7 linked regions of the Homo sapiens genome follow. The protein of the gene in region 2 interacts with the protein of the main gene of each other region in a biochemical or structural test. Each region holds a gene or a part of one and is shown on either strand. Other genes may lie near its edges.

Region 1 (4,310 bases), on a different chromosome or scaffold from region 2:
GCGGGAAGCTGCACCTGCTGGTCGGGCTGCATCTTCCGGCCCACGACGCGAAAGGAATTGGCCGTGGGGTTGTGGTAGATCTGGACGCGGCTGAAGGCCTGGGGACCCGTGCCAGCAGGGAGCCATCGCTTGTTGCCATCATCATAAAGCATCACAGTGGCCCGGCTGGAACAGATGACCGTCTCGCTGCAGGCGGGAGGAAAAGGGAGAGGGGCCGGTCACCTTCTTATCTGGGTCTCTCCTGGGAGATTCCAAGGGACAAAGACAGTGTGTGGAAGGAAGAGAGTGACACAGAGGGAGGCAGGAGCCACGTGGACAGAAGGAGACGGGGGAGACAGATCAGGAGAGAAAATCAGATCAGGAGAGACAGGCAAACACACAAACGAGATGCAAGAGACAGACGCAGAGAGAGGTGGGAAAGGGAGAGTCGGGTTGACAAAGAGGAGAGACAGACTGAAGGCAGACAGACAGATGAACAGATGGGGGAGGGGTGGGGAAAAAGGATGGGCAGACAGGGGACCTGGAGGAAGAGGCAGACACAGAAAGAGATAAAGATGGTCTTGGCGTGGTGTCTCACACCTGTAATCCCAGCACTTTGGAGGTTGAGGCAGGAGGATCACTTGAGCCCAAGCATTTCAGAGCAGCCTGGGCAACATAGTGAGACCCCATCTCTAATAATAATAATTATTATTATTATTTTTATTTTTGTTTTTGAGACAGAGTCTTGCTCTCTGTCACCCAGGTTGGAATGTGGCCTCGACCTCCTGAGCTCAAGCGATCCTCCCACTTCAGCCTCCCAAGTAGCTGGGACTACAAGCATGCACCACCACACCCGACTAATCTTTTTTTTTTTTTTTTTTTTTTTGAGACAGAGTCTTACTCTGTCACCCGGGCTGTCCTCGGCTCACCGCAACCTCTGCCTCCCAGGTTCAAGCCATTCTCCGCCTCAGCCTCCTGAGTAGCTGGAATCACAGGCATGCACCACCAAGCCCAGCTAATTTTTTGTATTTTTAGTAGAGACGAGGTTTCACCATGTTGGCCAGACTGGTCTCGAACTCCTGGGCTCAAGTGATCCATTTGCCTCAGCCCCACAAAGTGCTGGGATTACAGGGGTGAGCCACCACACCCAGTCCACAAAAAAACTTTTTTAATGAAAAATAAAAAACACAACACAACAAAACTAATAAGAAGGAAAAGATAAAGATGGAGAGACAGGCTGAGGGGTGTAAGAGGCCGAGGCCAATGCCAGTGGGGGGATGCGGGTTAGCAGAGCAGAGGGCAGGAGGGAAGACAGAGGGGCCAGAAGGAGGCCAAGAGCCCAGAGCTGCACTAGGGACCAGCCCCTGCCTGACCTCAGTTTCCCTATCTCTACGCACCCCCCTCCACCACTGCCTGCTCAGGAAGAAGCTGAGGCTTGGGAGGGGAAGTGTGAGGCCTGCAGCAGGTTGGGGACCCATCCCAGACCTCTGAGCTCTTCCTCCAAAGGGACTTCCCGCTGCCCACCCCTCGCCTGGCTCCCCAGGGCACTAGCGGCCATTCCCCAGATACTCCCTGCTCTGTGTCTGGCCTATATTGGGTGGGGCTGGGGATGAAGACACAGCAGTGACCCAGACAGCTCCGGCACCACCCTCCTGGGGCTCACAGTCCAGTGTGGGAGACACAGCTGTCCCCAGACGGTACCAACCCAGGTTTAGGACCAAGGAGCCCAGGGTCTGGGGGTACCCTGAAGGAACGCCTGCCCCAGCCTGGAGAGTCAGGCAGGACTTCCTGGAAAAGGCAACGTCTGACTTAGCCTGGGTGGGAGGTGTCAGTAAACTGGTGCAGAGTTCAGGAGCTGATATCCCCAGACCTGGGTTCAAATCCCCACTGAGCCACCTACTTCATGTGACTCAGGCACATGACCTTCCCACTCAAGACCTCTTCTTGCCTGTGAACTGGGAAAATGACAGTCCCCACCTCCAGGGCAGTGGGGGAGGGGCACATGAATCTGGGCACCTAAAGGGCTTGGTACAGCCGGGTGTGGTGGCTCACGCCTGTAATTACAGCATGTTGGGAAGCTGAGGTGAATGGATCGCTTGAGCTCAGGTGTTCGAGACCAGCCTGGGCAACATGGTGAAATCCCGTCTCTACAAAAACGTACAAAGATTAGCTGGGCGTGGTGGTGTGCACCTGTAGTCTGAGCTACTCAGGAGGCTGACGCAGGAGAATCGCTTGAACCCAGGAGGTGGAGGCCGCAGTGAGCTGAGATCACGCCATTGCACTCCAGCCTGGGCGACAGAGTGAAACTCTGTTTCAAAAAAAAGAAAAAAAGCTAAGTGCTTGGTACAGCGTCCAGCACACGCCGAGAGCTCAGTAACTGTCAACATCCCTCTCATGGGCACCACTGGGGCCCGGGACAGCTACAACCCTCGGGACCCTCCCACCAGCCCCTCTGGGAGGTTCAATCCCCTCTCCCCCAGTGAGGAAACTCAGGCCTAGACAGGAACTCAAACAGGAAGTGACTTGCCCAAGGTCACACAGGGGAAGGGGAAGCACTGGTCTCCTCCCCACCCCACCCACACCAGGCTTTTTCCTGAAATGGGGAAGTTGGTGGTCAGAGGTTTCCGGGGACAGAAATTAGACACCCCCCGCAAAGCCTCTGTCTCTAGGAGGGCTGGGGGCTGGGTGTGACACTGATGCTGGGAAGTCAGGGCAGGGAAAGTCCCTAGGCAGACTCAGCTGTGGGTAGGGACCTGGGGTAGGGACCCTCAAATTTACCTAATTGTGCCATCTCCCTCTTACTAGGCATTTCAGGTGGATCAGGGGCCTTAAGCCCCTCCCCCAAAGTCACTCATTTTATTCTCACTGCAGCTTATCCAGAGAGCCACTCATTCTAATTTTGCAGGTGAGGACTAGAGGCCCAGAGAGGTTGAGTGACTTGCCCACAGTCACACAGCTACTGAGGAATAGAGTGAAGATGTGAATTCAGGCTTCCAAGCCTTAACCACCGGGAACTGTGTGGGCCCCACCCAAACACCAGGTGCCCTTTCCAGACAAACACAGCCTCGGGGGCTGTTTCTGGCTCCTGCTGCCCCTGGCAAGGCAGGGTTAAGGCCTCGGCCTCACCCACACCTGCCACCCACACCCAGGGCCGACTCTGGCCAGGAGCCCGGGGCTGCTGCTGCCCCGCCCTGGCTGCACTTTGCTCTCCCAGGCAGCCCTGCCCTACTGAGGCTCTGGACTGGCCGGAGAACAGGGCGCCTGCTGGGTGACCAAGGGGTGGTCTTGCCCCTCTCCAGGGAACACTATACCCATTGTAACAGAAGGATCCTGTTAAAACACGAGGTGGGGCGGGGAACGGTGGCTCATGCCTGTAATCCCAGCACTTTGAGAGGCCGAGGCGGGAGGATTGCTTTAGTCCAGAAGTTCAAGACCAGCCTGGGCAACACAGTGAGACCCCCCATCTCTAAAAAACAAAACAAACTAACAAAAACCTACAAGGTGGGATGTCTCTTCTTCTTCTTGAAGGCTCCAGGCTCCTACGGAATCAATGCCAAGTTCTCTCCAGGGCCTCCGTGATCTGTGTGTCCTCAGATCTCATTTCTTCCCGCTCCACTGTCCCTTGGGGACTCTGTTCCAGACCCTAGACCTCCTACCCCCATGCTGCTCTTCCCGCAGGCCAGACACATTCCTGCCTCGGGCCTGTGTGCTGCTTCTTCCTCAGGCCTAGCCTCTCCCCACTTTCAGGTCTCTCCTTAGATGTCACCCCTTCCAAGAAGCCGTCCCTCACTCCCTTAGCTGGAAACGCTTCTCTCCTTTTCATCCCCTGCTGCACATTTCATAGCAGTGACCCCTGCCCAACACAATATTTGTCTGTCTCCGCTGCCAAAAAGGCAGAAATTTGTGTCCCAGTTGTTCACTGCTGTGTCCCCAGAACCTAGAATGGCGTCCAACACATAGTAGGGACTCAATAGTTACGAAACATCTGTAAAAAAAGGCAAACTTTGGCCAGGGGAGGTGGCTCACGCCTGTAATCCCAGCACTTTGGGAGGCTGAGGCAGGAGGATCACTTGAGCCCAAGAGTTTGAGATTGGCTTGGGAAGGCTGGGTGTGGTGGCTTATGCCTGTAATCCCAGAACTTTGGGAGGCCAAAGCAGGTGGATCTCTTGAGGTCAAGAGTTCGACACCAGCCTGGCCAACATGGTGAAACCCTATGCCTACTAAAAATACAAAAATTAGCCAGGCATGGTGGCTCATGCCTGTAATCCCAGCTACCCAGGAGGCTGAGGCAGGGGAATCACTGAACCCAGGAGGCAGTTGCAGTGAGCCGA
Region 2 (4,310 bases):
TCAGAGAGGAAATCATCAGTACCTAGAGATGGATTGAACATAGCAAGTGCAGGAGAAGGACATGTCAAGATGTACCCCTACTTCAGATTCACAGAATAGGATGGATTCTATCATTCCATGAGCCGGGATCCTGAAAGAGGACCAGTTAGTGTGTGGGAGTGGGAAACATGAGTGGGTCTATTAGCTTGAGACATCCAAGTGGAGATGTTGAGTAGAAAGTTGAATGTACTTGTCTGGAGCTCAGGTGAGGGGTCTGAAATGGAGATTTGAATTGGGAAATCATCAGTGTATAACTGAAGCTGTGGGCATTAATGAATACTTATACTGATTATAGGATGAGAAAGAGGAAGGGGCATGAGAATAAGCCATAAGAAACTCCAGCAGGTAATGGCTAATAGAGGAAGATGAGCCAGCAGAGGAGTCTAGGAACCCAGCAAACAGTAACAAGAAGTGTAAAAGATGAGATGAGATGAGGAGTGTGGAGATGAGAGTGTGGAGGCCCCGGATAGAGGCTGGATGAGAGATTCACGGGGTCAGATGCTGCTGGGAGGACAACCAAGACGAGCACTGTGTCTGTTGGATTGAATGACACAGGGGTCATGTTGACCTTGGTAGGAGCTGTTACTGAGTCGTGTTGGGAGTGGAAGCAGGTTTGGAAAGGGTTGAGGAGTGAGTGGGAGGTGAGGAAGTGGCAACAGTGAGTGGAGACAACTCTCTCAGGAAGTTTGCCTGTATGGGGGAGGAAAGAGAGCAGTGAGTGGATCTGGAGGAGCGTCAGGTCAAGTTGGGAGACCGTGGATCCTATTGAGAAGGAGAGGTTGATCATATAGAGGAGAAAATAGATAAACAGTGGTATAAAATTCCTGGAAAGGCATCATAGGAAGAATCCAAATCATAGGTGAAGCAGTTGGTTTTGGGAAGGAGAGAAAGGGATAGGTGCTGAAGTTTGGTTAGGTTTTTATGTTTGAGGATGTTACCCAGTTGGATGGCTTCCCTTTCCTCTGTGAATCAGGAGGGGAGATCAGCCTCTGAGACGGGTGGCCAATGGAGAGTTATGTCCTAGTCTCAGGCAGGCCTTTGCTGATGTCTTGGCTGTAGTAAGCCCCAGGTTCCTGTAATGCCCTCCTCTTCCTCCTTCATGATATTCAGTCAACAAATAGGGAATGCTATGGGTGCCAGGCACTGTTCTAGATGTTGGTGTTACACTGCATTGTAACAAGTTGTTCAATGACTGTTTCCCGCTGAACTGAGAACTCCTCCAGAGGAAGAACCATTTCTTTTGTCTTCATCACTCTCCCCTGTGTCTAGCACAGTGCCTGGCATATGGGAAGCTGTCAGATTAGACAACTCCTGACTTTGAGCAAGACTCAACCCCAACCCCTGTGGTCTGATGCCAGGATCTTCAGGCTTAGTGACTACTTCTTTCACTTCCTGCCCCGAGGCCCCTGCCCAACTCCCTGCCTTGAGCCAGAACCCAGTTGGCTCTTTGCATCCTTTGGTAACTCCAATGAGAGGGGAGAGATTAGGTTGTGTTCCTTCTTTAAAAAATTGGACTGAGATCATCTTTTTGACCTCGAGCAGTGGGGTGTTGGTGACCACACCACCTCAGGCTAGATGCTCAGGCTTCAGCACTTAAACAGTTTCACCATTCTTCCTCTAATACTTCCTGCCCTGGTGACCAGATTGGCGGGGCTGCCCTGAGGTCAACTTGGCTCTTCACTGTTTCAGCCTCACAGTGCATGCACTCTTCTCAGATCATATCTCCTAGTGCCTAGGAGGTTGGTCTCTGCCTGACCTTTGAGAAACCTGGCTCTGTACACTACTGCTTCAGAGAAGGGTTTGCCATCCTTAAGGTCCTCTGAGCATGGCAGAGTCGTGGAGTCTTCTGCTTCCTGACACCCATGGAGATGCCACTCTTGAACAGTGTCTGTGCCAAGATGTTGGTTTAAGCTACCTCCCTCGCTCCCTTTTCCTAGATCTCAGCCCTCACCTCTCCAGGATTCCTGTCCCATCTTACTTCCCACTCAGGGACCCTTTGGCATTCTCTGACACCCTCCCAAACACTCCCTTTGCTCCTCCCCAGCCCATTGGGCCACACAGCCTTTCTTGGTATTTATTCCCAGCCAGTTCTGAGCTTCCTGGATCCTCCCACCCCCTGTGTCTGTCCCGTTCATCCGTCCTTTCCTTCTGCAACAGCCCAGTCTGTGTCGGCACACGGCACACTCTCTTTGGTAATGGGAATGTGAAATTGAATAAGACACCGTCTCAGATATTCTGATAGAATGTGGTTCTGGGTGTTGTGAGACACGAAGGAGAGAACAGTCACTTGATGGTGGGGAGAGAACAGGAAAGACTGCTTAGGAGCTGTAACTGCTGAGGTTAGTTTTGAAATACAAGCAGAGGTTCTCACAAGGGGAGACAGAATTCCAGGCCGAGGGAGCAGTATAAACAAAGACCCAGGGCTTTAAGAGTGTGCGACATGTTTCAGAATCCGCCACGCTTCATGTGGCTAGAGTATAAGGTATAAAGGAGGCGGGAGGTGGGGAGGGGACTGACAGGTTATAGAGGCCGGCTTAAGAGGGCTCTTGGGTGTCTGCGAACGAGTGCAGGCGTTATCCGAAAGGCAGTGGTGAGCCCTCTCATTTTCTGAACCAGGGAGTGACACAATCTGGTTTCCATTTTTGGAAGATTACTGTGGTTCTGGGAGGAGGTAGAGCTATTTTTTTCTTCATTTATTCCAGTGGCTGTGAGTTTTCTCATTGGCCAGGAGGAGTCACACTGAGCAGATCAACAGCCCCACGTGAGGCAGACACGTGCGCAGAAACCTTTTTCATCTTACAGATGTGTGGGTAGCATAGCACTAGTGTCTGAGGAACTAGAGACGTAGAAAGGTGAGCTATGGGGCCGGGCGCGGTGGCTCACGCCTGTAATCCCAGCACTTTGGGAGGCTGAGGCGGGTGGATCACCTGAGGTCAGGAGTTTGAGACCAGCCTGGCCAACATGGTGAAACCCTATCTCTACTTAAAAGAAAAAAAAAAAAAGAATTACAAAAATTAGCTGGGCGTGGTGGTGGGCACCTATAATCCCAGCTACTCAGGAGGCTGCAGGAGGTTGCAGTGAGCTGAGATCGTGCCATTGCACTCCAGCCTGGGCGCACCGCACCTGGAGAGATGGGCAAGCCCTGCTCAGGTAGCTGCAAGACCTGTGCTCAGCGCTGAGAACACAGAGGGAAGGGGGGTAGTGGTGAGTCAGGGAAAGAAAGAACTCCTTAGTAGAGGAACAGGGAGATAGGGAACTCTCAGATAAGACATCAAGGAGAAAGGTCTGTACAGTGGGAATGAGAAAGAGCACAGTGCAGTGTTTGTTGGGATGGTCAGTGAGGGAGAATTGTCTGTTGGGGGAAGGGTCGGGTAGGGCAAGAGAATCAGTGAGGCCATCGAGGGAGGAGAGAGTAATGTGGTAGGGGCTGTCTGAAGGAGGGCTTGCATGGAGGGCTCAGGATGAGAGAGAAGTGGGCAGTGGTTGGTCAGGGAGAAATAACTGAAATCGGGGGCTGGTGAGGGTCCAGGGAGAGAGCACTTTCTCTTGGGGGTCCGGGAAGGAGAGCAGCAGAGCAACTGGAAGGTCAGGGAGAGTGGGGAGGATGGAATGGGGCCGAGGGTGGGTCCCTGGGTGGCGGGCTGGAAGGATAGTTGGGACTCAAATGGTTGCGGAGAAACTGACCCACGAAGGGCTGTGAGGAGGCAGAGGGAGGGGTCTGGAGGGGGAGCTGTCCTTGCGGAACAGGACGTCCTCTTACCTGAGAGGCAGGTGGAGTTTGTTTGGGGCACCATAAGGCATAGTAACGTAACCAAAGTGTTTTCTGACACTGGCAGAGGAGATGCCAAAGCGAAGCCTGGAGGAAATGGGGACTGATTCATACATTCATTCAGCAAATATTAATGGAGTTCCTGCTCTGTGCCAGGACTACGCTAGGCACTAGGCATACTGTATTTAACCAAAAAGGCAAAATCCTCACCAACATGGAAATTATAAATTATAGTCATGAGGAGACAATCATTAGACAAAGTAAATAATAAATTGGCTTGTCAGATGGTGACAGGCGCTGGGGAAGAGTTTAGGGATTGCTGAGGAGGGGCGGAGGTAGCCTGTGGTTTTAAAATGGGTGTTCAGGGAAGGCTTCACTGAGGCTGTGACATTTGGTCAAAGATCTGAAAGGCTGGGCCGGACGCAGTGGCTCATGCCTGTAATCCCAGCACTTTGGGAGGCCGAAGTGGGCGGATCACGAGGTCAGGAGTTTGAGATCAGCC
Region 3 (4,310 bases), on a different chromosome or scaffold from region 2:
GGAAAAGGATAACTCAAAATCATAGTTAAAACTAGACAAAATGAGGTAAAATGAGTGAATAAACTAGTTAAAATTATACCCACAATTTAAGTATACATTTATCTTTCCACAGATGGCGTTCAAATAATGACTGTGGTCATTTAAACAGCATCATGAATTGCACAAAACCGCTTGATGAAAAATGACCAAAAGATTAATAATAGTGCTATCGAGACAGTTTCTTAGCAAGGCGCGCCTGTCCTCCCCACCACCTGTGGGAAGGGCTGCATCAGGCTGGGGCAAAGGGCACACTCCTGCCCATCTGTTTCACGTCACTGTTCTGGGTTGGGCTCCGTCTCCTGCCTGTCCTGCTTATGTTCTGGGCCAGTCTGTGGCTGCAGCTTACCCTTGAGTTGTCCTTTTCTGAGGGGAGCGGGTGCTGTTCCTGAGGGCTGGTAGTTCTTCTGGAGGGGAAGCACCACATGGTGGAGGTGTTTTTTTGCTGATTCCTAGTCATTGAGCATTTTCCCCCATAAATTTGATACCTAGTTTATTCCTGCTACATCTAATTTAAAAACTGGTTCATAGTTTCTTCTGTAATCGTGTATTGGTTCTAGTACCTATAATATTAGTCTCCTATTTAATGAGTAAGCCTTTTTCCTCCTTGTTACATAGTTTTCACGATCAGTTTTTAATTCTCATTAAGCGAATGCATCATAATTTACACAAGTATTCCCTAACTGTAAAACCACCTAGATTTGCTTTTACATTGCCTTTATAAATACCACTCTAATGAACATCTTTTTGTGGTTTTTATTTTTGAGACAGGGTCTTGCTCTGTCACCACGCTGGAGAGCAGTGGTGCAATCTTGGCTCACTGCAGCCTCCTCCTCCTGGGCTCAAGCGATCCTTCCACCTCAGTCTACTGAGTAGTTAGGACCACAGGCATATGCCACCACATTTGACTAATTTTTTGTAGAGATGAGGTTTCACCATGTTGCCCAGGCTAGTTTTGAACTCCTGAGCTCAAACGATCCACATGCCTTGGCCTCCGAAATTGCTGAGATTACAGGCATGAGCCACTGCACCCGGCCCTCTAATGAACATCTTTACAGAGATGTTTCTATGTAATTAGGGTTATTTTCTTAGATTTTCTGAGGTGGCATTAAGATATCAGCCATTTTTATGGCCAATCTGTTCTGGCACCAGTTTACTCCCAGCAGTGCACAGTATCACCTCAGGCATATGAGGGTGAATTTTACCCCATCCTCCCCCCTCAGCATTGAGGGTATTAACATTTTAATTTTTTTAAATTGAACAAATCACTTTATTCATTGCAGCATTTAGAAAAGGATGATTGATTTCATTGTTAAGCATAGCAGGGTTTATATGTAAAAGTTTTTTTCTTTGAAATTTTGAAGTGTCAGAGAATGAACCTTCATATTGACAGTTTGTTCTCTTAGACACGTTGTGATAATTGTGTTAGATAAATTGAGTGGCTGGTTGTCATTTTCTCTCTAAATAATAACTGAAAAGAAATCTTCATGTGCTTTTGTATTTTTTAAATGTCTTTTATAAAATGAATACAAATGTATAACTAACCTTTAGGAGCCCTACATTAAATACATTTTCCAGTGGGTAGGGCCTGGGAGGTGATTATAGTTATTTTCCTAATTGCTCTTATTCATTGGATCATAGCATTTCCTGATATTTCGTCGTAAGGAAATGGTGAAGTGTTTGTTTTATAGTGCAAAATGTCACACCGAACCATGAAACACAGGAACTGTTCGATTTAGGTCTGTTAATATGGCGTGTAAGCTGTCTTGATTTTGTCAGTTCTGTGTTCAAGCAGGAAACACGTTTACAAACGACCTTCTTGCCTTTGATACAGTTGGACATTGTACCTCCTGTAAGAGGTACAGACTGGGCGCTCAAGGACATGAATCCTTGTTGTTTTGCATGTGTGTTTTAAAAAAAATGGGGACACTAATCCTAACCTGTGCTTGTTTGAGGTGTCTTTCAAAACCAGAGAAGGCATCTTATTGTTACAGATAATAACGAAGAATTATGCTAAGAACACTAACAGGAGAAAGTGTGGGAAGGTTTAGGAAAGTGGGGTCAGGGCTTCCAGCACCACGTGTAGACCGAGGCTGCCAGCCTAGGGTAAAGTTCTGTGTCTGCTCATGTATTTCCTAGTATACTGGCTGTGCTCTGCCTCTCGTTTTGCTAATTTCTTTGTCATGGCTACCTCTTTTCTTTCAAAGAGTAGACCAAGTTTCTGAATGTATAGACGAGAAAACACGAAGTGTTATCTAAACCTGATTTTAGTGAACCTTAAAAAAAATTATGATGCTGGAAGGGACATTACATCCCCTTGTGTCAAACTCAGTGCCTGAAATGCAGCCTACCTGGGAAGGGACATGTGTTCAGAGGATTAGAAAGACCAAGAAGATGCTTTCTAAGATCTCCATATATTCTTATCTCCATGTAATCAGAATCTGAAGTTATTCTGTTAAAATGATGACTGCAAGAATGATTGTGGTGTTCATGGTTGTTTTATTTTTTAAGTTGTCATAGAGATCTATAAAAACAAGTATTCAGTGCTTTACTATAAGTATTCTAATTTTTTGACTCAAAGTACTAGTAACTTATATTTTAGCTGGTGGTGGCTTATTTAGGAATTCCAGGAAAAATGCCATAGAGTATTATAGAAATAGTACTAATCTAAGAGGTGAAATTTTGTGTCCTGTTTCTGCTACCACCTGACTAGGCACGTGGCCTTGTCTGGTATTTGTTTTCTTTGTCTTTAAAACAGAGGAAGGGGCTAGATGATGTTCAGAGTCCTTTTATCTCCCATACGCTTTGACCTGAATCCTGTGAGTAAACTGGTAAGATATAAAGAGGATTCTTACTGCTGTTTTTACCTTCCTCAGGATCCTGTTCCCAGTGGGTTTTCTGCAGGGGAAGTTCTGATTCCCTTAGCTGACGAATATGACCCTATGTTTCCTAATGATTATGAGAAAGTAGTGAAGCGCCAAAGAGAGGAACGACAGAGACAGCGGGAGCTGGAAAGACAAAAGGAAATAGAAGAAAGGGAAAAGTAAGGCTTCCTTTGGATTTGGGGATATTTTACAGTTGAAATGTTCATTAAAATGTTAACGAATGAGCGTCGCTGCTGTCTGTAAGGCTGAAGTTAATTGTCATGGGTGATCTGAGCAGTCACTACAAGGAATCAAACTGTTTTACGATTTGTACCTGTTACATCTCAGAATCACAGCAAACTTCACCTGTAGACTGAAGACCTAAAGTGTATATTTTGAGTGAGTTGTTAGAAAAATAACTTATAAACCTGATGTTGAAAATTTTTTTCTATGCTGATACTCTGCTATAGGTTGACTATCCCTTATTCAAAAATCCGAAATCTGAAATGCTCCAAAATCTTTTGAATGCCAACATGCCGCTCAAAGGAAATGTGCATTGGGGGATTTTGGCTTAGGGATGCTGAACTGGTAATTGTAATGCAAATATTCCAAAATTTGAAACACTTCTGGTCCCAGGCATTTGGAATAAGGGATTCTCAACTTGTAAAATCACAGCTATTTAAAGTACTTGAAATATTCTTCTTAACTTTACTATTTTTGAGCCAGGTGGAATTTTTAAAAATTCATATGCAGCTTTTATTTATGTTTTTGCAAAGTACGAGTAGTAGGATGTATTTGTAGTTCTTTTTAAAAATATTTAGTATTATCAAATAGTTAACATGTATTAAATATTAATATACTGTTTCCCATTTATTGAATCATTTCATGAGTGAAAGTGTTATAGACTATTGAAATGATTGAACTATTACTATGTTGATAGGCTTTAACATTGGAAGAGGTCAATGTCAAGGAACCTTTTTTTTCATGCTGGTTGCTCTCGTATACTTATTGGTTCAATTTATCTCTTGAATTTTTCTCACTTTTCATACTTTTATCTACTTTAGTCTTTTACCAGTTATGCTTCCTACCCCCTCTACCCCTGCAACTTCATAGTTGATTGTGACAGGATTTGGATATCTTCTGGTCAAGAGGAAGTCATCCCAGGTTCAGGTCTCTAAATTGGTTCATCTGTGATGAACATTTATTTCCTTTGTTATCACAGAAGGCGTAAAGACAGACATGAAGCAAGTGGGTTTGCAAGGAGACCAGATCCAGATTCTGATGAAGATGAAGATTATGAGCGAGAGAGGAGGAAAAGAAGTAAGGCATGAACAAATATGTCTTAAACATATATAAATACTGGAAGTGCAATTCCACTATGTGCTTTTTCTTTTCAGTTTGATAAATAGT
Region 4 (4,310 bases), on a different chromosome or scaffold from region 2:
ATTTTTGGTTTCATCGCTGAAAGTCATTGTTTTAAACTGCTCAAACATGATGTTACTTAGACTGACCAGCTTTATTGTTCTATGAGACTGCATTCCACTGTAGGCTGGCTGTGTCAAATATATGCTTCTGATGACATGGGATCTCTAATTACACACACACACACACACACACACACACACACACACATATATATCTCCAGCCTCTTAATGTAGTAAAATATTTTAAAATCTGTTCTAATTACTTAGTCATACCTTACTGTGCTAATCTAATGCTATTAACCTTTAACCTGGATAGAATTCTATTTATTTGCATTATACTACTTTGTAGTGTAATAGATGGCCAGCAGCTTAATTCAAATAACCACAAATATTTTAAAGTACCATGTAAGTCTAATTTTATTGACTTTTTTAGTATAAAGTAATAGCTAAAATTAACACTGAGCACTAATTCAGAGCTTTGTGTGTAAAAATTTAATTAAGACACATTACCAAACTTGCCAAAGAGATCCTTAAGGCGCTCATCATCCATGTCTTCTCCAAAATTCTTGATGTAAACATTGGTGAATTCTTTTGCCCTAGCTCCAAGTTCAGCTTCTCGTTCTTTACGAGACTTAAATCGTCCAACAAATCTAATAAGATATACAAGGACTATAACATTAGATTCTATTTTATAAAGTTCAGATTAAGTAAGCCTGATGGTTGGTTTTGTTACTGTTAATGAGAATATTCAGAATCCCTAATAAAAAGCACACTACAAAATAGAAATAGGGCCATAATTTAAGATATGACACCATGAAATATATGAATAAGCCTCTAACTACAATCACAAAAAAAAAACCACTTCTTTTAATACACACTTCTCTTCTCTAGCTAACCTAGGGTTAAAGGGATCACTCCCATCAATACAAATGAGTGGAAGTGCATGTGTACCATGCCAATAAAAAGACCTCTATCAAATTAAAAAGCTTTCATCGTCATTTTAAAGTGGCGCTTGCGCTTTCTTTGCCATCTCCTAGAATAAAAATTTAAACTTCCCAATCGTGTACTCTAACACACAACAGCCTGACATAACTGCAGCATTTTCAACAAAATGACACTAAAACTTAATTTTTTCTGAATATAACAGTAGTAATTCAGAACAAGGATCACTGGGCTAGGCAGTGGCTCACACCTGTAATCCCAGCACTTTGCAAGGCCAAGGTGGGATGATCACTGGAGGCCAGGAATTCGAGTTCAGCCTAGCCAACATGGTGAAACTGTCTCTACTAAAGTACAAAAATTAGTTGGGTGTGGTGGTGTACACCTGTAATCCCACCTACTTGGGAGGCTGAAGCACGACAATTGCTAGAACCCGGGAGGCAGAGGTGGCAGTGAGTAGATTGCACCACTGCACTCCAGCCTGGGCAAGAGAGCAAGACCATGTCTCAAAAATATAAAAAGAACAACGATCACTGAAGAAAAAAAGGTAGCACATGTGTCATAGCATATTATAATACACAGCAAAGCAGAAGGAAAAACCATCTTACATAATCTCACCCTAGTCATCTAAATTTCCTTATCTCTAACCCAGCTTTAGAATAAAAAGTAAAATAAAAATAATTTCCTTATCTCTCCACAAAATATGGTTGGTCTTCGCTATGCTATTAGTTTCATAAATGTTCTCAAAGGGAGCGTATTTCATTGTGACCATCACTTTCTGCTTTGTAAATAATGCTGCAACTTTTTTAAGAGACAAGGTCTTGCTATTCTGCCCTGGCTGGAGTGTAATAGCTGTTCACAGGCACAATCACAACACACTACAGCCTTGGCTCAAGCATCCTGCCTCAGCTTCCCAGTGGCTGGGAATAAAGGCACACTGCAGTAAAGCTGAAACTTTATGAAAGACACTTTGTGTATTTCTTCTTAGGACAGTTACAAATTTCCAAAAGAGTTATATCACTTTTACTCAAAACAGCAACATATCATTCTTTTCTGGATCCTGCCAGTGTTGGGCTTGCTTTTTTTTCCTCCTAAAGCCCTGGTAACAGGCATTTGTGAGTATTTATTTATTTTTTTTAAAGACAGTTTCAATCTTGTCGCCCAGACTGGAGTACAATGGCGAAATCTCGGTTCACTGCAACCTCCGCCTCCCGGGTTTAAGTGATTCTCCTGCCTCAGCCTCCCGAGTAGCTAGGATTACAGGCATGCGCCACCATGCCCAGCTAATTTTGTATTTTTAGTAGAGACGGTTTCTCCATGTTGGTCAGGCTGGTCTCAAACTCCCAACCTCAGGTGATCCGCCCACCTCGGCCTCCCAAAGTGCTGGGATTTACAGGCATGAGCCACCGCGCCCGGACTTGTGAGTAATGTATGTCTCTCATTTTACAGTACATAAAAGCAAATTACTTTGAGTTTCCTCACCTATAAAATGGGTTAATTTAACCAGTACCTCAAGAATTATGAATATTAGGTTTGTCTGAATTCCTGATTTTTCACTAATGCACTCATTTTGAAAAAGCTACATTTTTCTGTTTACTTATCTTCTGTTTTCCTTTTGGCATGAATGTTAATTATATTAAACCTGTTATTTGTATGTTACACTTACTGTGTAGAAAATTCAATTGTAAAAATCAAGATTAGCTTATTAATTTTCACTCCAGTACAACTACATGAATTTTTGTTATTCATCTTTAAAATGTTTTTATTCTTTTATCTTATGTGCATCTAACTTCTCCCTGACAAATATTAACTTAAAATGAATGGATTTGGAATTATTAAAAATAAGATTCAAAATATGATTAGCTAGATATTTATAACTTACACTTTGCGATCATTTAGGAGCATTCCATTCATTTTTTCAATAGCTCTTTCAGCTGCTTCCTGCGTCTCAAAGTGTACAAATCCATAGCCCTTGGAACCATTTTCATCACAAACCACCTAGGGAAAAACATATACCCATTTTTCTTTATTTGCTATTGATTTAACATTTGTTCAGTGTTGAGAGACAATCTGTTAGCCATCTAACCTGGATATTTGTGAAATAAAGATATCCATTACTGCACAGTTCCTATTTCAAGCACTAAACTAAATGTAGCTCAACAATGTAAACATGTGTATCGGACATTTTTGGCTTACCTTACATGAAAGGATGTTACCAAAAGCAGAAAATGTATCATACAGTGCTTTATTATCAATGGATTTGTCCAGATTTTTAATGAATATGTTGCCTACTCCACTTTTGCGAAGTGATGGATCACGCTGAGACCACATGATGCGTACTGGCTTGCCCTTTATAACATCAAAATTCATGGTGTCCAAAGCACGCTCCGCTGCAGGAAGGACATTTTCAGAGTCAATATTACTTCAAAATTTTTGCTGGCTACTTAAGATTATATAAACTATGGTGACTGGAGTGGGAGGACACATGGTCTCACAGTTGAACGCTTCCTCTTTAAGCTTCAAGATGGCTAGACCTTTCAAGTATCACACACTAGTGTGGGACCTAAGTTGTATAAAGCAAAGACAAATACCAGAAGCCCCCGAAATTTCTCACATATAAAAGAATTCCATATTGCTAATAATTAATAAATTCTTGACGCAATCTCTCGCCTTAATTGCCATTAAATCTAAAGCACTTTTTTTCCTAGTTATCAAAATCCAAATTCCTTCACATACAATCTGTTTAATAAGCAGTATAAAAGACATTACGCAACAGATTTATCTACAAGCTGGAAGTAGTTTATAGATTTAAATATTTTAACTTCTTCCCAACTACTTGCTAAAATTGGTCATTTCATTGCTAATAACTAACAATATTATATGAAAACTAGTCCATTTCCTAAAAAATGAAAGTTTCTTAATTATTGGGGGGAGGGAGGGTTTCAGTGATTCATGGCACAACTTCCATTTAAGAAAATGAAAGGCTAGACCAAGATTTGAATCATGCTTTCAAAAGCTAATGTGAAGTTAGACATATTTGGTTTCATAATCACAGAATTTTAAAAACACCAGGTCTGCAATATTCAGAAATCACCATTAACGCTCTCTTGACACATACAATCAATTTCACTTTAGATCGCTGATTTTCTTAACAACTGATTTAGTTATTTCTGAATACTGCTAGAAAATTTCAAAATCTACAATTAATTTCAGGATCTATAAAGGATTGAATTATGTATACCTGTACCATTAAAGGCTCTAAATGAAATAACACATCCTTAAATAAAAAGACTAGTCCCCGAAGAGAGGGAAAACGGTCCCTTTTAAGCCCTGAAACAATTCCTACAAATTCCATGCCAATGTAAATTTAAAAGTTATTGACAGGATGAATT
Region 5 (4,310 bases), on a different chromosome or scaffold from region 2:
TATAAAAGTTGAAAGTTTTTGAACAAATATAATACTTAATACAAATTTTAATTTCCATCAAATTAATTGTGATTCTGTATAACTTTATATTTGAGTCCCTTTTATAAGGCAGTGCCATTTCTTATTTCTCTATTAGTTTATGAAAAATAGATTTTATAACTTGATTGTGGTACTAATAAAAAACAGCCTTTTAAACATGTTACAGCACTAATGGTGAACGATTTCAAGTTTTTAGCAATCAAGAAAGGTTGAGAATGCAACATATATTTATATGAGGGTAAATATTTTTACCTCTTGATAATTTTTGAAGTTTATTCAAGTATTTGACTAAGTTAAAAGTTACAGTAATTCTTTACATGCATTCAAGTTTACTCTTCAGTAGATAACTTCTGCATTTTTTGACTGAGACTTAAAATTGCTATTTTGTGGATTTGGTTGTTATTAAAATACAACTATAATTATTTTTTAAATATTTAGTGTTCATTAATTTTGTTCATACAAATAGCTGACTTTTCTATAGTTGATCCTACATTTCGCTGATTAATATGGTTCAGAGCATACATTGCTCAGTGAAAAAGAGAAATGGCCCTTGTGGAGATGGTCCTGTAGTTTTAAAGAAAGACTTAATGATCCAGGATCTGAAGATAGCTTACTGTGGTGCTGCTGGGATGTTTATAAGCAAATAAGTTGATGTCCTTGTGTTGGAGACCACCACAGAGTTCCCTGGGGACTAAAAGTCCAAATTAGTTTAAATGCATTATTGTGTCCAGACAGTATTCAGGTAGGGCAAATGAAGTACTGCGAGTTCTACTTTGAAGTGGAGTTATTGGGGGCGGAGTGGGGGGAAGTGGTTCTATTAGAAAAAAAGTGAGTTCTATTAGAAGGCAGGTTATTGAGGGAGGAAAATTTACTCTTAGCATGTCCTGACAGTGATGCCAAGCTTTTCACCATAGGGTCTGTTCCATATTAGTCAATGCGGTTTGAACACTTTTTAAGGCTCTTTGAACGCTTACTGCAGTGTTGCAGTCTAGAAAGCATGTAACAATTATATTGATTCTTACTGGTCATAATGTAAATCCCTTGACAAATTCAAGGTCATTTTGTCTCCTGATGGGTTCCTGGTTGTATGGTGTGCCATTTACAATTAGAACATGGTTAGGGCTTGCCTCACTCAACTGCTGAAGTACCAAAGAAGCTTTTATCTTGTCATTTATTAGTTCGCTTTTGCATTGTGTGTGTGTGTATTTAGCCTTAGCTATTTTTAGTCCTTGAGAAAGGCCTAAAACTTGTGCTTTTTTGTTAAGGACTCAATTTAACACTTGTATTTTAGGGTTTGACTTTTGGCTGGCAATAGGCTCTTACTAATATCAATAATGACGAGGGTTTGCCAAGTTGGCATAAATCATTTGATTCTTAAACACTTGCAGAATCATGTATCCGCGAATTGTTAAGTATTACAGAATTTAATACACTCACCCAGACAAAAAACATACACACAGGATGAAATTATTTTGTGGAGAAAAATTAACTTTTTATAATGGTAACTAAAGAGTTGGTCACATGAGAAATTTTTATCACATTGTATTATGTTATAGAAGAAATATGTGAAATGTATTTTTTCCCAGAACAACTTTTTTAAAAGTGATTTTCTTCATAAATATTTTCAGAACTATGGTTTTCACCCCAGAATTCCAGAAAGCCAGAAGACGTCTTCTGTATTTACAGGCATGTAGTTGGTTCTGTATAGATTTGAGATAGGGTCTCAGTCTGTTGCCTAGGGTGGAGTTCTGTGCCATGATCATAGCTCACTGCAACCTGAACCTCCTGGACTCAAGCAGTCCTCCCACCTTAGCCTCCTCGGTAGCTGGGACTACAAGCATGTGCCACCATGCCTGGCTAATTTCTTTTATTTTTTTGTAGAGGTGGGGTTTTACTATGTTGTCCAGGCTTGTCTCAAACTCCTGGACTCAAATAATCCTCCTTGGCCTTTTTAAGTGCTGGGATTACGGATGTGAGCCACCATGCCTGGCCTATTCTGTATAGTTTATAGAGCATTTCCACATCCTTACATAATTTATTCCCTACAACCCTGTGTTATGTAGACTAAGTAATATGCAAGTTATAAAAGGAATACAAGCTTGGGGGTGTTAAAACCTTTCCAGTTACTTTAGCCACTCAGGTTTGATTGCTAGGTCTGCCAGTTACCTCTAAATTCATCGCTTCTTTAACTACAAGAAACTGACTTTCTAGAATATTAAATGCCGGTTATGCTTATTCAAGTTTCACCTGTTAACCTTATGTATGTCGTTGTTTGCTTCAGTTCTAGTTGCTGATTATTTTTCTAAATGTCCTGAAGAATGTATTTCAGCAACATCATCAAACCACATGTGGTTTCTTATTCCTTTGCTAGTTGTCAGTCTTTTCAACTGACAAAAGGAAACATTTTGGTTTTTGACTTGTAAATTATTCTGAAATACCCTCTTGGTAGATTGCTATTATGTTTTTAAATCCCTGAGGTTTCCTGTTAGTATTTTGGGAAGTCTACTACTTAGTAAATATGAAATCAGAAAATGAAAGTGTTAATATTAAGTAAAATAGTTAATGCAGCAAAAGCCTATGATTTTTAAAGCTATTTGATTTATAAAATTAAGTGTTTTTAAAATAAAATAGGGATAAATATAAATCTTTTCATTTTTTGTATGTGCCCATAGGCATTTCTCCCACATGTGTTTTTTTAAGATGGAACTTTAGTGCTAGTGCTGTTTCCTTCTCTCATGAGTAGGTCTTAACCTTACCGTCAAGGACTGTCCTAAATGCTATTATTTTTCAGTAAAGCTTTTCTTGACTTTGCTATGGAAGTAAACCTTTTTAAATTTCACAGTGTGTCTTTGGTGCCACTCACACTTTCTATCCATGTCTAATCATCCCTTACAAATGGTAAAAGCAGACTCTGTTTGATTCATCTTCTGTATCAATTGCTTGCATATACAGACATCTTCAACTTAATATCAGTAACCTGTTCCTGAAAATCATGTCCTGAGTTAAAATACTAATGAGGAATCCCCATTTCCCATTGTTTAAAAAAAAATTATATGTAACATGTATTTCCCAAGTCCTTAACTAATTTTCTAAAACATATGTAATATATAGTAAAACATGCACGTATACCAAACAAGCTATCATATTAGTATGTAAATGCTTTAAACATTTTCCGTCAATAAAGAATTATAGTTCTTAACAGTTGCTTTGTATGTAGTAACGTATTACATGTCATCCCGTTGAGACCATGCACTTACCGAAATATTTACATTTGATTCTGCTGATCTGTCCATTCTTACTGGATTATAACTTGAGTTTTTTTCCATGTGGCATTTTGTTTAAAATGTTGAGTTGAATTTTGGTGATATAAATAACGAAGTTTTCATTTGTAAATATTGCCCAAAAACATTGAAATATACACTTGTGGAAATTTGAATACTAATTATAAGGGCTGTTTTATCAGACGTTTTGTAAGGCACGTTATATTGCTTCATCAGTATTTTTCTTTTTATGCTGTCCATTAATTTGATTAAGCAAAATGTAATGCGGTTGAGTGATAACCTGAAGTAATAGCTTTGTTGAGAAAGAAGTTGCTGTTGTGGTGTAAACAAAATTTTGGTTCCTTAAATATTAATTTACCTTTTTAAAGCATTGGCCATTGAAGATCAAATGATATTTCTAGTTTATTTGCTGGCTTGAAATTCCTTGTGTCAGTGAAAGTTAGTGGCTGATCTTTAACAGTCCTGTTAATTTTATTTGATATGTAATATAATTTATATACTCTATTTCTTAACAGGTAGTTGTGTCAACTAACATAGCAGAGACGTCTTTGACAATAGATGGTGTGGTGTTTGTGATTGATCCTGGATTTGCGAAACAGAAGGTACATATTTAGTGGATACTTTATAAATTAGAGTTGGTTTAACAGTACTTACAACCAATTCATTTAATGGCTAAAATTTACCTTTCAGAATTATTTTCCTATCTTTTTTTTTATTTGCAAATTTCTGCTGTATGAACCCTTTATGTTTTGGCTGGCTCTCAGAAATTAAGACAGTATTTAATATGTAATTCTAGGCTTTTTTTTCTTTTAGAGTTGCTTTGCTTTCTTTGTTTCAGTGTAGTGACGGTGGGTGTTTTGGCTTGTATATTCATTTAACAGTATGGGTTTAGTAATAAAGTACAGGATTTCTATCCCTGCAGTTCAGTCACTTCTCCCAACATTATTAGAGTTACTGCTGTCAACTAGGCACACTATTTGAAAACAGTAC
Region 6 (4,310 bases), on a different chromosome or scaffold from region 2:
GATTATTCAGACAGGACTTATGTATTCTCCTAGGAAGGAGTGTTCCTTTCTAGCTCTTCAAAAACAAAACACTTGATTGTTCTTGGAATTATTATTTTTTAATTATTTTTTATAGAGACTGGGTCTCTGTTGCCCAGGCCGCTGTCAAACTCCTGGTCTCAAGCAGTCCTCCAACCTTGGCCTCCCAAAGTGCTGGGATTACACATGTGAGCCATCACATCCAGCCTTTCCTTGGAATTCTTGAAAAAAAAAAAAAAAAAAAAAAAAAAAAAAAGAAAAGTCCCATGGCACATTGCCTGGAAAGAAAAAAGAAGAAAGAATGACAAAAAATATTAAAGAAAAAAGGATTGGGCGTGGTGGCTCATGCCTGTAATCCCAGCACTTTGGGAGGCCAAGGTGGGAGGATTGCTTTTAGCCCAGGAACTCAAGACCAGCCTGGGCAACATGGTGGAACTTCATCTCTCTAAAAAATACAAAAATTAGCTGGGTGTGGTGGCACACGCCTGTGTTTCCAGCTACTCAGGAGGATTGCCTAAGTCCAGGGAGGTTGAGGCTGCAGCAAACCATTGATCACATCACTGCACCCCAGCCTGGGCGACAGAGAGAGAATCTGTCTCAAAAAAAAAAAAAAAAAAAAAAAGTCGGCTGGGTGCAGTGGCTCACGCCTGTAATCGCAGTACTTTGGGAGGCCGAGGCAGGCGGATCACCTGAGGTCAGGAGTTTGAGACCAGCCTGGCTAACATAGTGAAACCCCATCTCTACTAAAAATATAAAAAATTAACTGGGCATGATGGCACGCAGCCATAATCCCAGCTACTCAGAAGGCTGAGGCAGGAGAATCTCTTGAACCCAGGAGGTGGAGGTTGCAGTGAGCCAAGATTGTGCCACTGCACTCCAGCCTGGGTGACAGAGCAAGACTCCGTCTCAAAAAAAAAAAAAAAAAAAAACAAAACCCAAAACATTACACACATTAATCCAAAGCCACTAACTAGCAGTGTTATTTTGAGGAAGTCACGTTACTTCTCTGGGCCTCACTTCCCTTATTTGTAAAATTAGGTTGACTAGATCAGAAGTGTATCAGATTAACTTTTCCAAGATTATAAATGTTGGGGGGGCTCTACCTAAGAGATTCTGATTCCTTGGTTCTGGGATGTAACCCTAAGTAAAGGTTGTCCATAGGCTATTGTTAGACCCGTCTGTTGAGGACCCTTGGAAGAAATCTCTGAAAGGTCCCTTGCAACCCTAACACTCTAGATTTTTTTTTTTTGAGATAGCGTCTTGCTTTGTCATCCAAGCTGGAGTGCAGTAGCGCAATCACGGCTCACCGCAGTCTCGACCTCCCAGGCTCAAGCAATCCTCCCATCCTTCAGCCTTCCAAGTAGCTGGGACCACAGGTGTGCACCACCATGCCTGGCTAATTTTGTATTTTTTTTGTAGAGATGAGGTTTTGCCATGTTGCCCAGACTGGTCTCAAACTCCTGGGCTCAAGCTACCCACCCACCTTGGCCTCCCAAAGTGCTGGGATTACAGGCATGAGCCACCATGCCCAGCTTCTAGATTCTTTAATGGTTGCTGTCCTTACCTACCCACTGTCCTCCATGTTCTAGTCTATTCCTATTAGGTATGCCAGGGTTTTTGCTTTAAAGATATATCCTTATTGTAGAAACCTTTGGGATGTGATCAAGCCGCACTTACAGAAAATTTGAGCTTTCTGATGGAGGGGCTGTAGAAAGTAGTAGTAGAAGCCATGAGATGGCTGTCCCAACTATGTAAGTGAAGGTAACATGGACTGAAAGGGAATCATCTGGTCAAATCTCTCACTAGTCATAGACAGATATTCCCATTTTAAATTAATTCCTACCAATTTCTGGATTTAGATCAGTTGTTTTCCCGTGGTGACAGTCTGTAAGATGTTATTAAAACCCAGAATTGGCTGGGCCTGGTGGCTTACGCCAGTAATCCCAGCGCTTTGGGAGGCCGAGGCAGGTGGATCACCTGAGGTCAGGAGTTCAAGACCAGCCTGGCCAACATGGTGAAACCCTATCTCTACTAAAAATACAAAAATTAGCCAGGTGTGGTGGTGCCTGCCTGTAATCTCAGGGACGCTGGGGCAGGAGAATCGCTTGAACTTGGGAGGTGGAGGTTGCAGTGAGCCAAGATCATGCCACCGCACCCCAGTCTGGGCAACAGAGTGAGACTCCGTCTCAAAAAAAAAAAAAAAAAAAAAAAGAATTATATTTCTTTCTGCTACCATGCAAACAACTGAGCTCCTTTCCTGTTCTGTGCCTGACTTGGTGGAAAGGTTTAAAGAATCAGCTCAGGCTAGGCGTGGTTCACACCTGTAATCCCAGCACTTTGGGAGGCCAGGTGGGGAGATTGCCTGAGCACAGGAGTTTGAGACTAGCCTGGCCAAGATGGTGAAACCCCGTCTCTACTAAAAATACAGAAAACTAGCCGGGTGAGGTGGTGGGCACCACTGCACTCCAGCCTGGGTGACAGAGCGAGACTGTCAAAAAATAAATAAATAAAGAATGGGCTCAAAGACGCACTACTTAGTACAGAGAGGTTTTGAATACATGCTCTGTGCATGCAAGGCACGTGGGGTGATGCTGCTGCTGTTCTCAGGGTGGTTGGTTTGGTGGGGCAGTAGGTCCTCACAGTACCTCAGAATGCCTGAGAGATTAGTAAGTGGGGAGGGTCGAAGCGATCAGAGGCCTGTGGGAGCACAAGCAAGGATGATAGGAATTAATGTTCTATTCTTTTCGCAGATGATTTTGAGTCAAAGTATTCCTTCCATCCAGTAGAAGACTTTCCTGCTCCAGAAGAATATAAACACTTTCAGAGGATATATCCCAGCAAAACAAACCGAGGTGAGAATAATAATAAGAAGGTTTTTCCATAATTGCATAGAATGTAGAATCTGTGCATTTTCTTAGGTTAAAATTTGCTTCTCGCTGGGCACAGTGGCTCATACCTATAATCCCAGCACTTTGGGAGGCCAAGGTGGGTGGATCACGAGGTCAGGAATTCGAGACCAGCCTGACCAACATAATGAAACCCTGTCTCTACTAAAAATACAAAATTAGGCTGGGCGCGGTGGCTTATGCCTATAATCCCAGCATTTTGGGAGGCTGAGGTGGGCGGATCATGAGGTCGGGAGATCAAGACCATCCTAGCTAACACGGTGAAACCCCGTCTCTACTAAAAATACAAAAGATTAGCTGGGCGTGGTGGCACACACCTGTAGTCCCAGCTACTCGGGAGGCTGAGGCAGGAGAACTGTTTAAACCCAGGAGGCGGAGGTTGCAGTGAGCCAAGATCACGCTACTGTACTCCAGCCTGGGTGACAGAGGGAGACTCCGTCTCAAAAAAAAAGAAAAAAAATTGCTTCTCATCATCTTCGTTGTCCTTTTTTTTTTTTTTTTTTTGAGATAGGGTCTCCCTATCGTCACCCAGGCTGGAGTGCAGTGGTGCCATCTCGGCTCACCCCAAACCTCTGCCTCCCAGGTTCAAGTGATTCTCCTGCTTAAGCCTCCCAAGTATCTAGGATTATAGGCGTGTGCCACCATGCCGGATTATTTTTGTAATTTTAGTAGAGACTGGGTTTTGCCTGGTTGGCCAGGCTGGTCTGAAACTCCTGACCTCAGGTGATCCGCCCGCCTCGGCCTCCCAAAGTGCTGGGATTACAGGCGTGAGCCACCTTGCCTGGCCACTCATCTTCATTTTCTTAGGCAAAACAATAATAACACGTAGTCCCCAGATTTTAAAGGTTAGCTTAAAGAGCCTGTCTCTCATTTTAGGAATGTGTGGGTTGTTCAGATTCTGGTGGGTGACCTGTATGTGTGTGGTCTTTATTTTGTTTTTTTTCAGCTGCCCGTGGAGCCCCACCTCTGCCACCCATTCTCAGGTGAAGCCTGGCTTGGTCCCGTTCCTCAGGAAAAGGATGGACCTTCTCTTCTTCTCAGATGGTCCCTTCCATTCCCCTGAAACCTGCATGAGAGCTCCTAACATGTTTCTCCAATGCAATCAAGCCCTAGACTCCAAATGTCCTCCCAGCTCACCTCCATCTATGCATCTCATCTCTGGATTTGGTGATCAGACTCTATATTGACAGTAGGATCTCAAACCCTGCATCCATCCTTCCTCCAGCAAGCCCTGCTAGCCACATGAGGAACAAGTTTCCGTGTCTTCTGCCTTCCTCTTGGGGAAAGGTGCCTTGTTGTGATGAATTAACTCACTGTTAGGGCAGGGTGGAGAATGGTACTCCTTCCTTCTCCTGTCCACTGTGGGGGAAGCTTGGCAGGTATATT
Region 7 (4,310 bases), on a different chromosome or scaffold from region 2:
GGCAGGAGGATTGCTGGAGCCCTGGAGTTCGAGACCAGCCTGAGTAACATGTCAATACCCTGTCTCTACAAAAAATTTAAAAATTACACAGGCATGGTGGTATATGCCTGTGGTCCTAGCTACACGGGAGGCTGAGATGGGAGGATCGCTCAAGCCCAGGCGGTCAAGGCTGCAGTGAGCTGTGATTGCGCCCTGCACTCCAGCCTGGGTGACCGAGCAAGACCCTGTCTCGAAAATAAAATAAAATTGCAGCCTCCTCCACCTCTTCCCTCCTCCTTCCCTGTTTATTTTTCCGCATAACTCCAGGAAACACCTAACACATTATGTTTTCGGTAATTATGTTGCTAATTGTTTGTGTCCCCTACTGAAATGTCAACTTTTGCTCACTGTGGTTTCTCTAGTGCCCAGAACAGTGCCCAGAATATAGTCAGTGCCCAGTAAATGTGAGCTGAGTGAGTGACTAAGCCCCCAGTCCCTTCCCACACTCCCATCTCTGAACTAACCAATCTCTCCTTTCCTCAGGCTGCATAGAGCCTGGACCTGGGCACTGGGGTGAGCTGAGCCGGACACCAGTCCCATCTAAACCCCAGGACAAAGTGGAAGCAGCTGAGGCAACACCAGTGGCCCTGGACAGTGACACCTCCGGGGCTGAAAATGCAGCAGTGAGTGCTATGCTGCACGCTGTAGCCGCCAGCCGCCTGCCTGTTTGCAGCCAGCAGCAGGGTGAACCCGACTTGACAGAGCATGAGAAAGTGGCCATCCTGGCCCAGCTGTACCACGAGAAGCCACTGGTGTTCCTGGAGCGCTTCCGCACAGGCCTCCGTGAGGAGCATCTGGCCTGCTTTGGCCACGTGCGTGGCGACCACCGTGCAGACTTCTACTGTGCTGAGGTGGCCCGGCAGGGCACTGCCCGGCCCCGCACCCTGCGTACCCGCCTGCGTAACCGGCGCTATGCTGCCCTGCGAGAGCTGATCCAAGGTGTGGGGGCCAGATGGGCGACAGTGGGCACATATGGGGAGGGAGGGGAGACTGAGGCAGAGGGAATTAGAGAAAAGAATACAAGAGCAGAGACAGAGATCCTGGGAGAGAAGTTCTGAGACAGAGACAGGGACACAGGAAGAGACTGAGACAGAAATGTAAAGTAAGGGGGAGAGATAGACAGGGGTCCAGGGAAGAGAATGGGACAGACAATGAGAATAGATCAGAATTTAGTAGATGTTAGAAGTGGCATTTCAGATTGGTAGGCTGAGGACACAGTACACAGTGCTGTGATAATTGGTCATACCTAAGGAACAAAACATGAGATCCCTACCTCATACCATATACAGAGGCATCAGGGGAAACCAAAAGGAGTATGTACATGACCTTGGGGACACAGAAGCCTTCTGAACAAGACACACGGTGAAAACCATGAAGGAAAAAAAAGATAGCTTTTTGACCATGACATAATTAAAAGCATCCTTGTGACCACAACACCAGAACCAAAGTTAAAAGATGAGAGTGAATGAAGCAGAGTGAGTTAAGTTGCCGTTAGGGAGAAGGCACAAGTTATAGAGAGGTTCACAGAGAAAGAGAGAGAGGCTGGGCATGATGGCTTATGCCTGTAATCCCAGCACTTTGGGAGGTCAAGGTGGGTAGATTACTTGAGCTCATGAGTTCAAGACCAGCCTGGGCAACATGGCGAAATGCTGTCTCTACAAAAAATACAAAAATTAGCTGGGTGTGGTGGCGCCCTAGCTACTCAGAAGGCTGAGGTGGGAGAATTGCTTGAGCCTGGGAGGTGGAAGTTGTGTGAGCTGAGATCCCACCACTAAGCTCTAGCCTGGGCGATAAAGCCAGATCTTGTCTCAAAAAAAAAAAAAAAAAACACAGATGTGGAAATGAGGATGAAAACAGAAGGAAGATGGGCCGGGCACAGTCACTCAAGCCGGTGATCCCAGCACTTTGGGAGGGCGAGGTGGGGGTGGACCTGAGGTCAGGAGTTCCAGAGCAGCCTGGCCAACATGGTGAAACCCCATCTCTACTAAAAATACAAAAAAATTAGCCACATGTGGTGGCAGGCAACTGTAATCTCAGTTACTTGGGAGGCTGAGGGAGGAGAATTACATGAATCTGGGAGGTGGAGGTTGCCAAAAAAAAAAAAAAAAGAAGAAAGATGAATGAGGTGGGGGTAGGTGACAGAAACTGAAAAAAGCAGGAAAGATAGAAAGATGGAGATAAAGGAAGAGATGGAGAGAGATCCAGAGCCGGGGTGGGTGATAATCCAAGTTGGGGAGAAGGAGGGATAGAAACTGAATCTGCTAGAGGCTGGGCACAGTGGCTCAGACCTGTAATCCCAGCACTTTGGGAGGCCGAGGCAGGCAAATCACTTGAGATAAGGAGTTCAAGACCAGCCTGGCCAACATGGTGAAACCCCGGCTCTACTAAAAATACAAAAAAAATTAGCCAGGCACTGTGGCAGGTGCCTATAATCCCAGCTACTCAGGAGGCTGAGGCAGGAGAATCACTTGAACCCGGGAGGCGGAGGTTGCAGTTAGAGTTAATCGAGATCACACCACTACACTCCAGCCTGGGCAACAGAGCGAGACTCCATCTCAAAAAACTGAGTCTGCTAGAGGATGCCACAAACAGCTGGGGGTAAGATTGCTGGCAGGAGTGGGGAAGCTGAGCAGGACAGGGACAGTCACAGCCTATGGTGCTGCAGAGGCCAGGAGTCCGAGCAGTTTCTTTGCCCTGGACTCTGAAGACACGGCTAGGACCAGTGGAGGGGAGGGACCAGGGCAGGTTTAACTGTTATTTGAGGGACAGAGTCACTCGTGCAGAAACAGGCAGCCAGGGGTGATGCAGGGAACTCAAGTTTTGGGGTAGTGGGGAAGCCAGGCCCACCTGAGGGGTTGCTGCATAGAGGAGCACTCGAGAGAGGATGGATCTAGGGCCTTCCACCACCAGGAGGCTTTCCCAGGGATACACGGGCAGATGCCCCACCTGACCTGATCCCTTGCACACACATGCCAAATCCACGTGGATGTACACACATACACGCCCCACAGTGAAGGCGTGTCCACTGCCAGCCAGACTAGGGCCCCACAAACAGGCACACAACCTAGAGACACACAACTTCTGCTGCATTGTCCTGCATGCTGACACCCAGACAGACAGGTGTCTGTGGGCATATGCTGGGCCTCACAGGACATGTGTGTGTACATAGGCCATGTACACGTCCATGGGCAGGAGCTTGTGCATCGTGCCTGGACACAGTTGTACACGAGCTCCAGACCGTCAGAGCCTCAGAGGCCAGGATGTAGCCAGGTCTGCCCATGCACACACATGCTTGGATGCATGAATACATGAATACACAGGAAGATAGAGGCCGGGCCACATACACACACTCAGGTGCCTGCACGAGTAATCACATGCACATGACCTCAGGTGCCTGCATGAGTGCTTGCGCACACAGCTTCAGGCACCTGCATGAGTATTCACGTGCATGCCTCAGGCGCCTGCATTATTCACACGCACGCCTCAGGCGCCTGCATGAGTACTCACGCGCACCTCAGGTGCCTGCATGTTTTCCTGTGTTTTTGAATGTGTGCATACACACACTTGGACTGTGTATGCACATCATCCCACAAGCATGATCACACACATACCCACATGGACACTATCTGCTCAGTCGCTCACCCCATGCCCACCCTGTCTCTCCTCTGTGCAGGGGGCGAGTACTTCAGTGATGAGCAGATGCGGTTCCGGGCCCCCCTGCTATATGAGCAGTACATCGGGCAGTATCTCACCCAGGAGGAGCTCAGTGCCCGCACCCCAACCCACCAGCCCCCCAAGCCCGGGTCCCCCGGGAGACCTGCTTGCCCGCTCTCCAACTTGCTGCTCCAGTCCTACGAGGAGCGGGAGCTACAGCAGCGTCTGCTCCAACAGCAGGAGGAGGAGGAGGCCTGCTTGGAGGAAGAGGAAGAGGAGGAGGACAGTGACGAGGAAGGTGAGGGCCAGTAGCAGGAAGACCCCAGATTCCAGACACCCCAGCCCTAGGCCTGTCTGTCTCCACTTCATGGCAGCAGGCTGGGCCCCCAACCTGCAAAAGCCGACATTGCGTCCCTCCCCTGCCCAGCCTGACTCTCTGTGTATGCCCTTCCAACCGCTGCAGCATCCCCATCCCCCACTCTGAGGCACCAAATGAACCCTCGCCTCCAGGTCTGGACAGGCTGTTCCCTCCGCCAGGAATGCCTCTCCTCCCACCCTTCAGGTCTCAGATCCTGACCCGAGGATACAGTCTCCAGAGCACTATATGGTCATGTGTT

What was found.
Region 1: the proteins of APBB1 (region 2) and VASP form a complex in vitro, tested with the Homo sapiens proteins (one study listed by BioGRID).
Region 3: the proteins of APBB1 (region 2) and RBM17 form a complex in vitro, tested with the Homo sapiens proteins (one study listed by BioGRID).
Region 4: the proteins of APBB1 (region 2) and PABPC1 form a complex in vitro, tested with the Homo sapiens proteins (one study listed by BioGRID).
Region 5: the proteins of APBB1 (region 2) and DHX15 form a complex in vitro, tested with the Homo sapiens proteins (one study listed by BioGRID).
Region 6: the proteins of APBB1 (region 2) and WIPF2 form a complex in vitro, tested with the Homo sapiens proteins (one study listed by BioGRID).
Region 7: the proteins of APBB1 (region 2) and CCDC97 form a complex in vitro, tested with the Homo sapiens proteins (one study listed by BioGRID).

What each region holds. Positions count from the first base shown.
Region 1 is NC_000019.10:45,513,539-45,517,848, reverse strand, and holds part of VASP (vasodilator-stimulated phosphoprotein), read right to left. Parts: intron 187-4,310; coding exon 15-186; intron 1-14. UniProt on the Homo sapiens protein: Ena/VASP proteins are actin-associated proteins involved in a range of processes dependent on cytoskeleton remodeling and cell polarity such as axon guidance, lamellipodial and filopodial dynamics, platelet activation and cell migration.
Region 2 is NC_000011.10:6,412,363-6,416,672, reverse strand, and holds part of APBB1 (amyloid beta precursor protein binding family B member 1), read left to right. Parts: intron 1-4,310. UniProt on the Homo sapiens protein: Transcription coregulator that can have both coactivator and corepressor functions. Adapter protein that forms a transcriptionally active complex with the gamma-secretase-derived amyloid precursor protein (APP) intracellular domain.
Region 3 is NC_000010.11:6,102,019-6,106,328, forward strand, and holds part of RBM17 (splicing factor 45), read left to right. Parts: intron 1-2,912; coding exon 2,913-3,079; intron 3,080-4,122; coding exon 4,123-4,220; intron 4,221-4,310. UniProt on the Homo sapiens protein: Splice factor that binds to the single-stranded 3'AG at the exon/intron border and promotes its utilization in the second catalytic step. Involved in the regulation of alternative splicing and the utilization of cryptic splice sites.
Region 4 is NC_000008.11:100,714,973-100,719,282, forward strand, and holds part of PABPC1 (polyadenylate-binding protein 1), read right to left. Parts: intron 3,309-4,310; coding exon 3,115-3,308; intron 2,917-3,114; coding exon 2,801-2,916; intron 630-2,800; coding exon 490-629; intron 1-489. UniProt on the Homo sapiens protein: Binds the poly(A) tail of mRNA, including that of its own transcript, and regulates processes of mRNA metabolism such as pre-mRNA splicing and mRNA stability.
Region 5 is NC_000004.12:24,542,552-24,546,861, reverse strand, and holds part of DHX15 (ATP-dependent RNA helicase DHX15), read left to right. Parts: intron 1-3,835; coding exon 3,836-3,922; intron 3,923-4,310.
Region 6 is NC_000017.11:40,274,315-40,278,624, forward strand, and holds part of WIPF2 (WAS/WASL-interacting protein family member 2), read left to right. Parts: intron 1-2,768; coding exon 2,769-2,870; intron 2,871-3,870; coding exon 3,871-3,911; 3' UTR 3,912-4,310. UniProt on the Homo sapiens protein: Plays an active role in the formation of cell surface protrusions downstream of activated PDGFB receptors. Plays an important role in actin-microspike formation through cooperation with WASL.
Region 7 is NC_000019.10:41,315,862-41,320,171, forward strand, and holds part of CCDC97 (coiled-coil domain-containing protein 97), read left to right. Parts: intron 1-522; coding exon 523-978; intron 979-3,712; coding exon 3,713-3,991; intron 3,992-4,310. UniProt on the Homo sapiens protein: May play a role pre-mRNA splicing through the association with the splicing factor SF3B complex which is involved in branch-site recognition.